2 separate regions of the Homo sapiens genome follow, and region 2 is linked to region 1. Evidence: fine-mapped QTL for protein levels in blood plasma. Region 1 holds a variant in brackets. A gene starts in the other region. All regions are shown on their forward strands. Region 1 overlaps FRMPD2 (FERM and PDZ domain containing 2). Region 2 holds the start of PPY (pancreatic polypeptide).

What was found. PIP is the chance, under the fine-mapping model, that this variant and not a neighbour inherited with it causes the effect. Protein levels are from antibody-based Olink assays in UK Biobank. Linkage for the fine-mapping came from a reference panel and not from the study's own genotypes, which makes the PIPs less certain.
Region 2: PPY starts here. The variant in region 1 is fine-mapped to the plasma level of the PPY protein (UK Biobank, PIP above 0.99).

What each region holds. Positions count from the first base shown.
Region 1 is chr10:48,159,727-48,165,100 of GRCh38, forward strand. It overlaps FRMPD2 (FERM and PDZ domain containing 2), which reads right to left. Exons shown (of 29, transcript NM_001018071.4): 28 at 3,602-3,945. Among named protein-coding and RNA genes, the nearest start is that of FRMPD2, 110 kb to the right of the region's middle. The variant A/G (reference allele first, on the strand shown) is at 2,321.
Region 2 is chr17:43,938,126-43,943,499 of GRCh38, forward strand. It overlaps PPY (pancreatic polypeptide), which reads right to left and starts at 4,351. Exons shown (of 4, transcript NM_002722.5): 1 at 4,296-4,351; 2 at 3,339-3,529; 3 at 3,018-3,089; 4 at 2,679-2,827. The coding sequence starts at 3,529. The coding sequence ends at 2,803. LINC01976 (long intergenic non-protein coding RNA 1976) reads left to right here and starts at 136. Exons shown (of 2, transcript NR_136406.1): 1 at 136-272; 2 at 436-837. RefSeq lists an enhancer at 1-422.

The sequences.
Region 1 (5,374 bases):
AGTGATGCTTGTTGAACTTACGTGCATTTTACTTACATGAGTTTAATGATATGTGCTAGGCAAAAAGAGAAAGAGAAAGATAACCTTAAACATTCTGCAAAGACCAACTTTCCAACCGATAAGTGTAAGCCTTGAAGTGCACATGAGTGGGAGAACTAAATCTTTCATCCTCTCAATCTGTCTCTGTTTCTATTGGGCCAGCATTTAAAGACAAACATTTTGCATACAGCATGGCCCATAAATGCAAGCCTCCTAACTTCATCTGAGGCTCGACCAAACAAAAAGTGATTTGCTCCCACACCAAGGGGCAAATAACATCACTCCTTCCAAAGTGATGTTTCAAGGGTAATGAGACTTGATGTGATTGTTGCCTTCTGCCTACCTTTAGGAACTAACCTTATAAAAAACATGACTCCAGCCAAGCTTTCCCTCTGATAGGCACGTAATCCAACTCTCCTTCATAAAAATGTACTGTACTGCTTTATTACAAGATATTTTTATAAAGATCTACTACTAGACGGTAAAATCTCTAGATATAGAGTGTGAGAAAAGAGAACAGGGAAAGAAAGTGAAATCGAATCTTGTCCATGAACACTTTGGATTTGCTGTGGTGCTGGCAGCCATCTGGCTGTAGGAAGTTGCCACCTGGCAGATGGTAAGTTCCGGCAATTTGCTGGGAATTTCAATTGAAGGGACCTGTTCTTTAGCTGGAAATAGCTCAGGAAAGGGAAGGAAAACAGACTTGCATTGAGTTCTTGCCGCATGCCAGGCACTGTGACAGCACCCTGAGCGTGCTATTTCTTTTGACCTGCACAGTACCCTGTGGAACTGTCATGGTCCCCATTTACATTTGGGAAGCCTCCAGCTTAGGGAAGGCAATGCTCCAGGCATACTAGTAAGTGGCAACGCTGAAACCACATAATAGGATACAGAAATCCATGCTCTTTTTGTTGAAGAGTTTAACTCACAGATGCCAGACACTTAAGAGGCAGTGGCCTGCGACAGTCACCTCAGAACTGAGCTGCAAACACTTCTAAGGCTTCTGCAGAGTCACAATCCCACTTTGGAATCCTGATTCAGACCCTATCCAGGAGCTGGGGGAACTGTGTCCAGGGGTCGCTGGGCATGCGCCCCTCTTTTCTTCCTGTAGGGGGCAGCCACTATGTGTGCATTAAATGCAAACTGACGTCCTATTGGAGGAGAGGTGGACTTGGTTTGAGTTCTTTCAGAGGGGAGGAAAGGTTCCTAAGTGAGGGAGGGAAAACGAAGTAAAAATAAAGCCAGGAAATGTGATGAGGCAGAAAGCATTCATCAACAGAACTACCACAGGGAGGCAAGAGAAAAAGGGGGTGCGGTTGGCCATTGAGAGAGCCAGGATACTGAGAACAGTAAAGCTGCCTGCCCACAGTTCATCCATGGGTACATGGACCATGTGGGCCCGGCAGTGAGTATGATGGTTGATGGGCGTTCACAACAGACTGAAGATAGGAGACTCCCCTGGAATGCTCTGGACAAGCCCTTGGGACTCTCGTGTGGCTCTAAAAGGAGCAGTCCCTCCAAGAATGACAGATTTTGGACATCTGGTATACCCTTGCAAATAGGGCCACTAAGCCAAATTTAATTTGGTTCAGAAAAACAGAATAATGTGATGTTTGATGCAAAAAAAAAACAGCAAATGCTAACAGATAGGCAGAAATAGGTATCCGGACTTGGAAGTAGAAGACATAAAGAGGCATAAAGATGTGGAAGATGTGGGAGCAAATCACTTTTTCTTTGGTTGAGCTTCAGATGAAGTTAGGAGGCTTGAATTTATGAGCCATGCTGTATGCAAAATGTGTAACTTTAAATGCTGGCCCCATAAGAACAGCATAACAGCATAAAGATTTCACCTTAATATAAGGAAGAACCTTCTGATCAGTAACTAGATGATGATAAAATGGGTCATTCAAGAGGTAGCAAGTTCTGCATCCCTGCAGATATTCAAGCAAAAGCTGGGACCCCTTCTTCAGGAATGTTATGGAGCAGATTCCAGCATGGAGTTTGAGGCTAGACTAGATCATTTTTATATTGAACAGGCTGATTTTCTGTCGTTTAATGAATGAAACAGTGACTGCCTATACTAATAGTTTAAAATACCATTTTAAATAACTATTGGCTATATTAAATTAAAGGCACTTGGCAAGTCAAATTCCCAGCTTGTACCTATACCCAGGGTCACTTTATAATTCAGCTCTCAGGGTCCCTGTTCATTATCCCAAGCTATCTGGCAGCAAAACCTTTCAATATCCAAACAAGTGCCTCCTCCCTACAGGAAAGTACC[A/G]TTCCTTTAATATGTCCTTTAAGATCATGGTAGTAGTTGTCCTTGGACAAGTCTCTGTAGGTTACTTTCTTTATTATTTTATCAAGTATGTCAATTACTGCCTAGACTGCAATTGTAAAGAACTATAAATACACTTATGTTATACATTATCAGACAACGAAAGTGAATATCATTGATGAATGTGCTTGTTCACCCTGTTCTACTTTGCAAACCAGTTAGCTTTTGTTTGGCTGACACAGCATTCTTCAAAAAATTGTAGCAGGGTACTTTTAGGGAATGCATGCCTGGCTCCTGCTTGTCACAGCTCTCATCGGGTCCAACGGTATTACACGACTGCTTCACACTTCACAGAGACTATCATTTCCTATGGATCTACCTTTGACAGTCGTCTAGGATGGCTACCAAATGAGAGCCATTTAATCTCAGTGGGTTTATAGAGTGTCAAACACAAACAATTGCCCCTTGTTATTTACCTGCTTTGTGCCCATGCCTCTGGCTGGCAAATGCTAGAAGCAGGTCTTACCCTACATGTGCAGCCCTCTGTCTGCTCCCAACAGGTTTCCAAGCACCTTGTGTAATAAGTACTTGTCAAACTGAATCAAAGACTATGTGTTCCCTCAGCATAGGACTGAGAATCGGAAATACTTACAGATGGATGGACACAAAAATGCAGACTAAATTTAAAATGACTGTGAAAATGAATGTTGCAGGGTGGTCTTGAAGATATAGATGTGTTCAGAAAACAAAAGCTGGTGTAGCCAGGCATGATGGCTGGTGCCTGTAGACCCAGCTATTGACCGGCTGAGGTGGGAGGATCACTTGAGCCCAGGATTTTGAATTCAGCCTGGGCAACATAGTAAGACCCCATCTTTAAAAAAAAAAAAAAAAAAAAAAGCTGATGTTGATAATAAAGCATTATACTAGCAATAGAAACGAGGATGCATGTAGGAACTTCCTTCTTACTACAAAGCTTTAACAGGCCATGGAAGATACAAGAGAAAGGTTTGTGTGCCAGGAGAAAACCTGAGGCCTGCCACCTATAGCTTCCAAGACATATTGGGGACAATTGTGGTCTGGGTAGGGTTTGCTTTCCCAAAAGCTCACAGGTGGTCACAGCAGCACCAGACTTTATGCTTCTCTTGTTGCAACCTCTCTTCTAAATGCCTGGAACAGTGCTGGGCACAAAATCATCCAAGCATAGTTATTGATGGCTTGATTACAATTTCCTAGCAATGAGATGCACACAGTTTACAAAATGTCTGCAAATGTGGTGATTCTTACCTTCCAAGTCTCATGATATCACAAACTGAATAGCAGTTTTGCCTCACATCCTTTTCCAAAGAGGTCGCCAATGTTGATTCATCCCTTTCTTGGTGAAGTTTGCATAAATGAGGGTGGGACTCAGGAGAATGTGTCAAGGAACTGGCCCAAGGTCTCTCTCTGTTTTGGCCCCATTGTGCCTCTCTGATGGCCTTTTGGGAAGACTCTGGCCTGAGACCCAGGCCTTCCCCTGCATCTGGGGAGGCACTGTCCCTCCAGCTGTCCTCTTGATCCAGGATGGGGCTGGTACATGAGTCAGTACATGTTGCCCTGGTGAATTCTTTGTCAGCTGAGAGTTCAGGTGTCTATTAAAAGAAATGCTACTGATTACTGGCTGCGGGATGCACATTGTTTTTTTAAAAATACAAAGCTTTTTTCCCCCATGTGATTATAGATCAGAGTAGTTACAAGATGGGCTTTGAGGTCTGTCTATCACCATAGCATCCCAGCTCCTCCACATGCTCCCGGCTGGACACTGGGCAACACACTCAGGCACCTTGGCTTTGGAAGCTCTCCATAAATGTGAGCCTTATTTTTAAATAAAAAATATTTGCAAAATTTAGACAAAGATAAAAATGGAAGATAAATATGCAAAACAATGACTCTATTCCACTCTCCGATAAGAAATGTTTTCTTTTTAAGTTTTTCATCTTCATCTGTCATCTCAGGGCTTGTCTCCCTGTCTCCACCCCCATCAAGGTGATGTTCTTTCCTGGGTCTCCTCCTCACTTTCCCAGACATGACTTGCTTCGTCTCAACTGCTCACCTCCCTGTCAGCCTTTTAGGTTCTGGTTTTGATGATGTGCTATGTCTTGCTGCCACTGCTTGACCTTCTACAGAAAAACAATCTGTGTTTCAGTAGAAAACTGTTTTTATCTACAGCAGAACCTGCTGGGTTCTCTGATTCTGGCTGTCTCCACTGTCTTTGAGCTATTTTACAACTCTATAAATAAACAGGTCCTTTGAAATCTCTTTTGAGCCAGTTTTAACATCTGCCTGGTTCCCTCACTGAATGAGTTAAATAAAATCTTTAACATGTGTTCATTTTTATATCTGTAGGAATCATGATTTTACCTTTTCCTGAAAATTATCTTCCAGCACTTCCACCCCATGATCTCCATACCTGATGTAATAGAGCCCATGCCTGGGTTCCCACCCCTGCCCTCACCTACAAAAGAAGAACCACCCCAATGAGTGGTCTCCCCACATTTCTGATTGTACATCCCTAACAATGAGAGGGATACACCTCCAAATGTGCACATTTATTTAATTATAAATCATAAACATTTACTACTCTTCTGATAGGCTGGACATTATAAAGGATACACCAAAAATCAAAATTTTAAGAAGACCATATTTTGTCACATTTTCATACTCTTTGGAGAGACCTCCAAAATCTGTTTTCTAACCTATCCTCTCCTTCTAGCTCATTATCCCTGGACATGCTCTCCAGCAATCCTTCCCCACTCCAAGACCTCCAGTCTGTGGAGCTGCTGCTTTTCATCATTACCCCCACTCCCCTTCCCTGTCACACATGTCCTCGGTGTGCCTCTTATTCTGCTTAGATTCCATGGCTCTGCCCCTAGATGCTCACTTACAGACAAGGAAGACCCTGAGCTCCCACCTCCTTGCCCCTCTCTTCCTCCATCACGTGTCACTTGCAGATTCTGAGTTTCCATTTTAATTCCTACTCAAACTGTGTGAACCTCACCCCTGCTTCTGAGCCTCTGACTA
Region 2 (5,374 bases), not on the chromosome of region 1:
CCACCGCGCGGAACACCTGCAAGCTCCGGTCCGGGTGCCGCGCTGACCACAGCCCCGGCATCACGTGACCTCCCGCGGCTCTGTCTGCCCCGCCCCCTCCAGACGCCTGCTCTGCGCTGCGCATTCGCTCTGGCCATAGCGGGCCTCGTGTCGCTGCTGATGCAGCCCGAGGGCGCCCTCGGCGAGGAGCTGCAAGTGCCGCAGCCCAGGGCCGCCAGTTGGCTGAACTTAGGCTCCATCAAGAAGTACTTGGGGAAGCTCTTCAACAGCAGGTGGGCCGGCGGAGGGTGTGAGGAAGGGAGGGAGGGAGGGAGGAAAGCGGGGGGTGGGGGGGGCGCGGGGGGGGGACACGGACGCCACCAGGCACCCCCACGCACATCGCGGCCTGAGCTGGGCTCGGGGAGCGGCCTCATGACTGCAAAGACTTGTTCCCAGCCCGAAGAAATCTAAAAACCACAAGAAAACTGCGAACGCCACGGACACCTCCCCATCAAAAGCCACGAAACCCCCACCATGGACCACCACGAACCCCCAGTGGCTGAACACCTCGGAACCCCGACCACCGACCTCCTCCCGGGGCCCCAGGTAGGACAGCCTGGATGCTGGGCACCGAGCCAGGGGCCTCGGGGCTGGGGGCAGCTTGGGTGCTAGCGAGAGGAAGTTCCTGGGGGCGGGCATGCGGGGAGACACAGCACCCCTGTGGGGGGGGCTTCTTTCTCCAGGCTGGGCCTTGGCCTCCAGACGCCTCTCTGCCCACCAACCCCTTTGTATTGAGAGGGGCCTCGACCCCTCCTCATCCCCTCAGTGAAAACAATAAAGACAAATTTTTGTTGCTTCAGTGACTTCTGTGGGCCTGCGGGCAGGGAGGGACCAGTCCATGGAACGGGAAGTGGGACCCTGTAGTTTCTGCTGTGAGAGAAAAAGACCTCAGCTGTTGGGGGTCCTCCCCTGCCTCCCCTGGCAACCCATCCACCTTCCCCCACTCCACCCACACATGGCCTTGTGGGTCTGGCCCTCCACCCCGTGGTAGAGACACAGATACGGGTCCTGGAGAAGACACTTATTGCCCCTGTAGTCCTGCACAGACAGCACCAGTGTGGGGGGCTCTAACCCAGAGGGAGAGCAGAGGTGAGAGAAGAAACCTCAAAGAAGGGGCTTCAGCTAGACACACCCCAACTCCCACCTGGCTCAAGTTTCTACCAAACAGCCCAGACTCCTCTCCCCATTCACCGCGCATCCCCTTAAGCTGCCAGAGAAAATGCTGGGACTTCAGGCTCCCTCTCCCAGACTCAAACCGTTCTTTTGCGAAACCATCTCTCTATCCAGACATCTTTGGATTTAAGAATCAACCTGAGGCTGGGCACAGTGGCTCACACCTGTAATCCCAGCATTTTGGGAGGCCGAGGTGAGCAGATCGCTGGAGCCCAGGAGTTTAAGACCATGCTGGGCAACATAGCAAGACCCTGTCTCTAAAAAATAAAAAAATTTGCTGGGTGTGGTGGCATGTGCCTGTAGTTCCAGCTGTTTGGGAGGCTGAGGCAGGAGGATCGCTTGAGCCCAGGAGGTCAAAGCTATGGTGAGCTGTGATCATGCCACTGTACTCCAGCCTGGGTGACAGAGCAAGATCCTGTCTCCAAAAACAAACAAAAAATCAATCTGAGCCAAGCAGCTGCATCCTCTAGAAGCTCTTTGCCTTTTAGGACCTGTTTCTACTTCCAGGTCATTTGCACACACCAGATGGAGTAGGACTTGAGGGGAAACACAATTGTGTGTCATTTCCATTTCTGTGCAAGGTGCTGAGCCCAGGAAAGTGGACCCCTCATCCTCCAAACCCATAACCCCATCCCTTGAGACCAAGCATGTGGGGGAGGCAGGAGAAGCCTTTCTAGGAACCAGAAACATTCTAGTTCCCTCACTTCTCCCCTTTACACATGCGCGTACACACGCATGCACACGCGCACTGTCCCCACCTATTCAGGGTGCCTGAGAAGGGCCAGGAAAAGATGGGTTCTCTGGGAATCTGGGAAGTCCTCCCTGGGGCAGGATCCAGGTCCTTGTCCTCCCAGGGCTGGAGTGTACAATCTACAGATTCAACTCATGGTGGCTGGAACTCTCAGCTAATCTAGCCTCCTCCCCTTCCACAGCAGCTTGAATACCTCCTGTGCCCAGGACTTCACTACCTCTCAGGGCAGCCCATTCTCTCCAAATTTCTGGACGGCAGCTCAGGCCCCTGGATGCAGCCATGACTGCCATAGCACCAGAATCGTTCTTCCAGGCTGGGCTGTGCCCCTGCCCCCATGCCAAGGGTGCTTTCGTATAAATTTTGGTGCTTCTGCTGCCTAGGCTGCAGTAAGGCACTGGTGAGGGGTGCACTTGGGGAAGGGTTGTCATCAGGCTGTGTCGGGAAGGTCTATGGGTACTGAACTGGGAAGATTCAAGACTGCCACTTCACAGACTTGCTGAAGGACCATCTGCTCAGAGGAGTCCCTGCCTTCCTCTGGCCACCACTTTTCCCTCTGCGAAGGGGAGAGGATGAGTTGAGTGACTCTGATGACCCCCGCCAACGTTCTGGATGATCCCCTTTTCCTCTGCCCTGCCCTGCCCTCCCCTTTCTCTCCCATGCATTTGGCACTTCCTGCTGCCCCCACCAGGGGTCCACAGAGACACAGGACAGGCTGTGGCTTTGACTTGCTTTATTGAGCCTGTGTGGGAGCAGGGAGCAAGCTTTGGCCAGAGCCAAGGGTGCAGAGGGGAGAGCTGGGCTGGCGCTGCTCATGGAGTCGTAGGAGACAGAAGGTGGCATTATAAGTCCAGCGGGCTGAGCTCCCTGTGAGGACAGGGCAGAACATGGCAGTGTAGGGGGTAGGCCTCGTGCCCTCAGGAGGCCTCAGGCTGGCCCTGGGCTCCTGTTCTCCCTCTTCCACCCCCCACTACACCTTTCCAAGCCCTGATTCAGTCCCACCACCCCCATTTCAGCTCCAGGGAGCTGGACAGACAGGGCAGGGAGTCAAACTCACCTGGGGACAGCAGCATGCGGGGACCCCCACTCCGAGAAGGCCAGCGTGTCCTCTTTGTGTCTTTTCCCATACCTGGGAGGGAAGAGGCAGCAGGGGCAAGCACTGTGCCCAGGTGCCAGCCCACCTGTTTCATATCTGCCTGTAGGCACCATCTTGCCCAGGGCACATTGGTCTAGGCCTGTTGAGCACAGATGCCCTGTTTTCCCAAGAGCAGGCCTGGAAGGGGCTGGGGCTGGGGCTGGGGATAGGGTGTGGCCAGGAATGTGGAGTGGGCCCAGGGTCCCAGGGGCTGGGATCTCTCTCCCCAACTGTGGCACACACCTAGGCCTGGTCAGCATGTTGATGTATCTACGGAGATCAGCTGCATACTGGGCCATCTGCTCTGGTGTGGCATTGTCCCCTGGGTACACTGGCTCCAGTGGGGCTCCCTGGGCACCCAGCAGTGGCTGTAGTAACAGAGCCACGCAGGTGGACAGGAGCAGCAGGGAGAGGCAGAGGCGTGCGGCAGCCATCTGAGGAGCAAGCAGAGGGGAGGTGGAGAGCCCGGGCTGCAGATTTTCCCGTGCCCAGGAAGCAGGGCCCAACTATCCAGCCCCTTAGCCCATCATCCATTTCTCCAAGCCTGGGGACAAGGGGGCAGAGCAAAGGGCCACTCCAAGCTGGCCACTCCACCTCCTAGACACTGCTCTGAAGGCACGGACAGCCTGTCCTGTGAGCAGCCCAGCAAGCCAGGGCCTCGCAAGTTAGAAAAGTATAGCAGAGAAAATGGGGATGTGAGTCCTGGAGACACGGGACTCATGACATCCAGGGCCTCATGGCTCCCAGGAGGCAGCAGCTAGTGGGAATAAGGGCATGCCAGGTCACCCACAGGGTGGGGGACACAGAATGAACTCGGGAAGCCAAGGACAGAAATCCATGGCCTTGTGGGTCTGGCCCTCCACCCTGCGATAGAGACACAGATATCGGTCCTGGAGAAGACGCTACTGTCCATGTCGTCCTGCACAGACCAGCAAAGGCACTCACACAGGGACCCCAGTCACTCACAAGGTCACAGTCACACATTCCAGTTCACAGCCATGCACACGAGTGTGCACACACACGTGCAGTCAGCAGACGGCTCTTCTAGCGTGACAGGTCTGTCCAGATGCAGAAAGCAAGACCCAAGCAGGACCTTAGGCCTCCCAAGGCCCCTGGCCCTGCAAAGCACCACCTCCTCTCCATCCCAGGCCCCAGCCTGGGGGAGGCCCCCAGAGCCCCAGGCAGGCTGAGCCCACTTACCCGGAGTCCAGAGTAAATGGGCACTAGACCAAGCGAGCACCTGCCTCAGGCCGGATGGGCCCCTGCCCTCGGCTGGGCCGCTTTATAGTCCTCAGCCCCCCAGAGTCCCCGCCTCCTGTCAGCCTCTCTCACTCCGAAGCCCTCACCCCTCCTCTCACTGTCTCCTCATACTGGCAACGCCAGTACTGAGGCCAGAGACGGGAGGGGGACAGGGCAGTTCTGTGGGTGCCAGACCAGCAGCATAACAGATAAAACTGGACCACAGTAAAAGTCTCCTGTGGGCCCCCATCACTGACACCCCTTCCCTTTGGGCACCAGAGCAGGCTTGGTTCAAGAAAGATGGGGTTCTGGGACTCGAGAGTGACTGAAAGGTTTTGGTCACAGGCCTTGGAACTAGCTCTCCTGCCTCCCAAAGATCAACCCAAATCATCCAACGGATTCTCTTGGGGCAGAAGATTGAGGCTGCAGCTGGAAGACTGAGGCTACAGCCAGAGCCTCCAGGCTGAAGAATGGAAACTCAGGCCATCCTCTGCAGCTTGCAACTAGAACAAGGTGGGAAGAGGGAAGGGGCCTCAGGTCCTCAGGCAAGGTGGAAAGGAGTGGGGTGCCAGGCTTGGAGAAACCCATTTGGTGGGTGCATAGGATGCAGAATGAGAACTCATGTGCCTGGGTTCAGGGGAAATGTTGAGGGGGGTGCCGGTTTCCAGTATCCATTTCCCTCCCCATCTCAGAGCCCCCATTCCAGGGAAGTGCTAAAAACCAGCTTCATTTGTAAAGCCTCACATTTTCCAAAGTGCTGCCAGCTCAGTCACCTCACTAAATCCCCACAACAACCCATTTTACAGATTCAGGATCTGAAATCTGCTCAGAGATGTCAAATCACTGGCCCCAAACCCCACAGCCAGTCAGACCCCAAAATTTAACTCCAAACCTGGACTGTTTTTTTTCCTAAGTGGGGCCGTCAAAGTATTGTTATAATTTCCCACTTTTTGGCTGAGAAACCTGAGGCTCACAGAGGTAAAGACGCTTGCTCAAGATCTCATAGCTACCGAGGTTCCGAATTCTGGCTTAGATTCTCA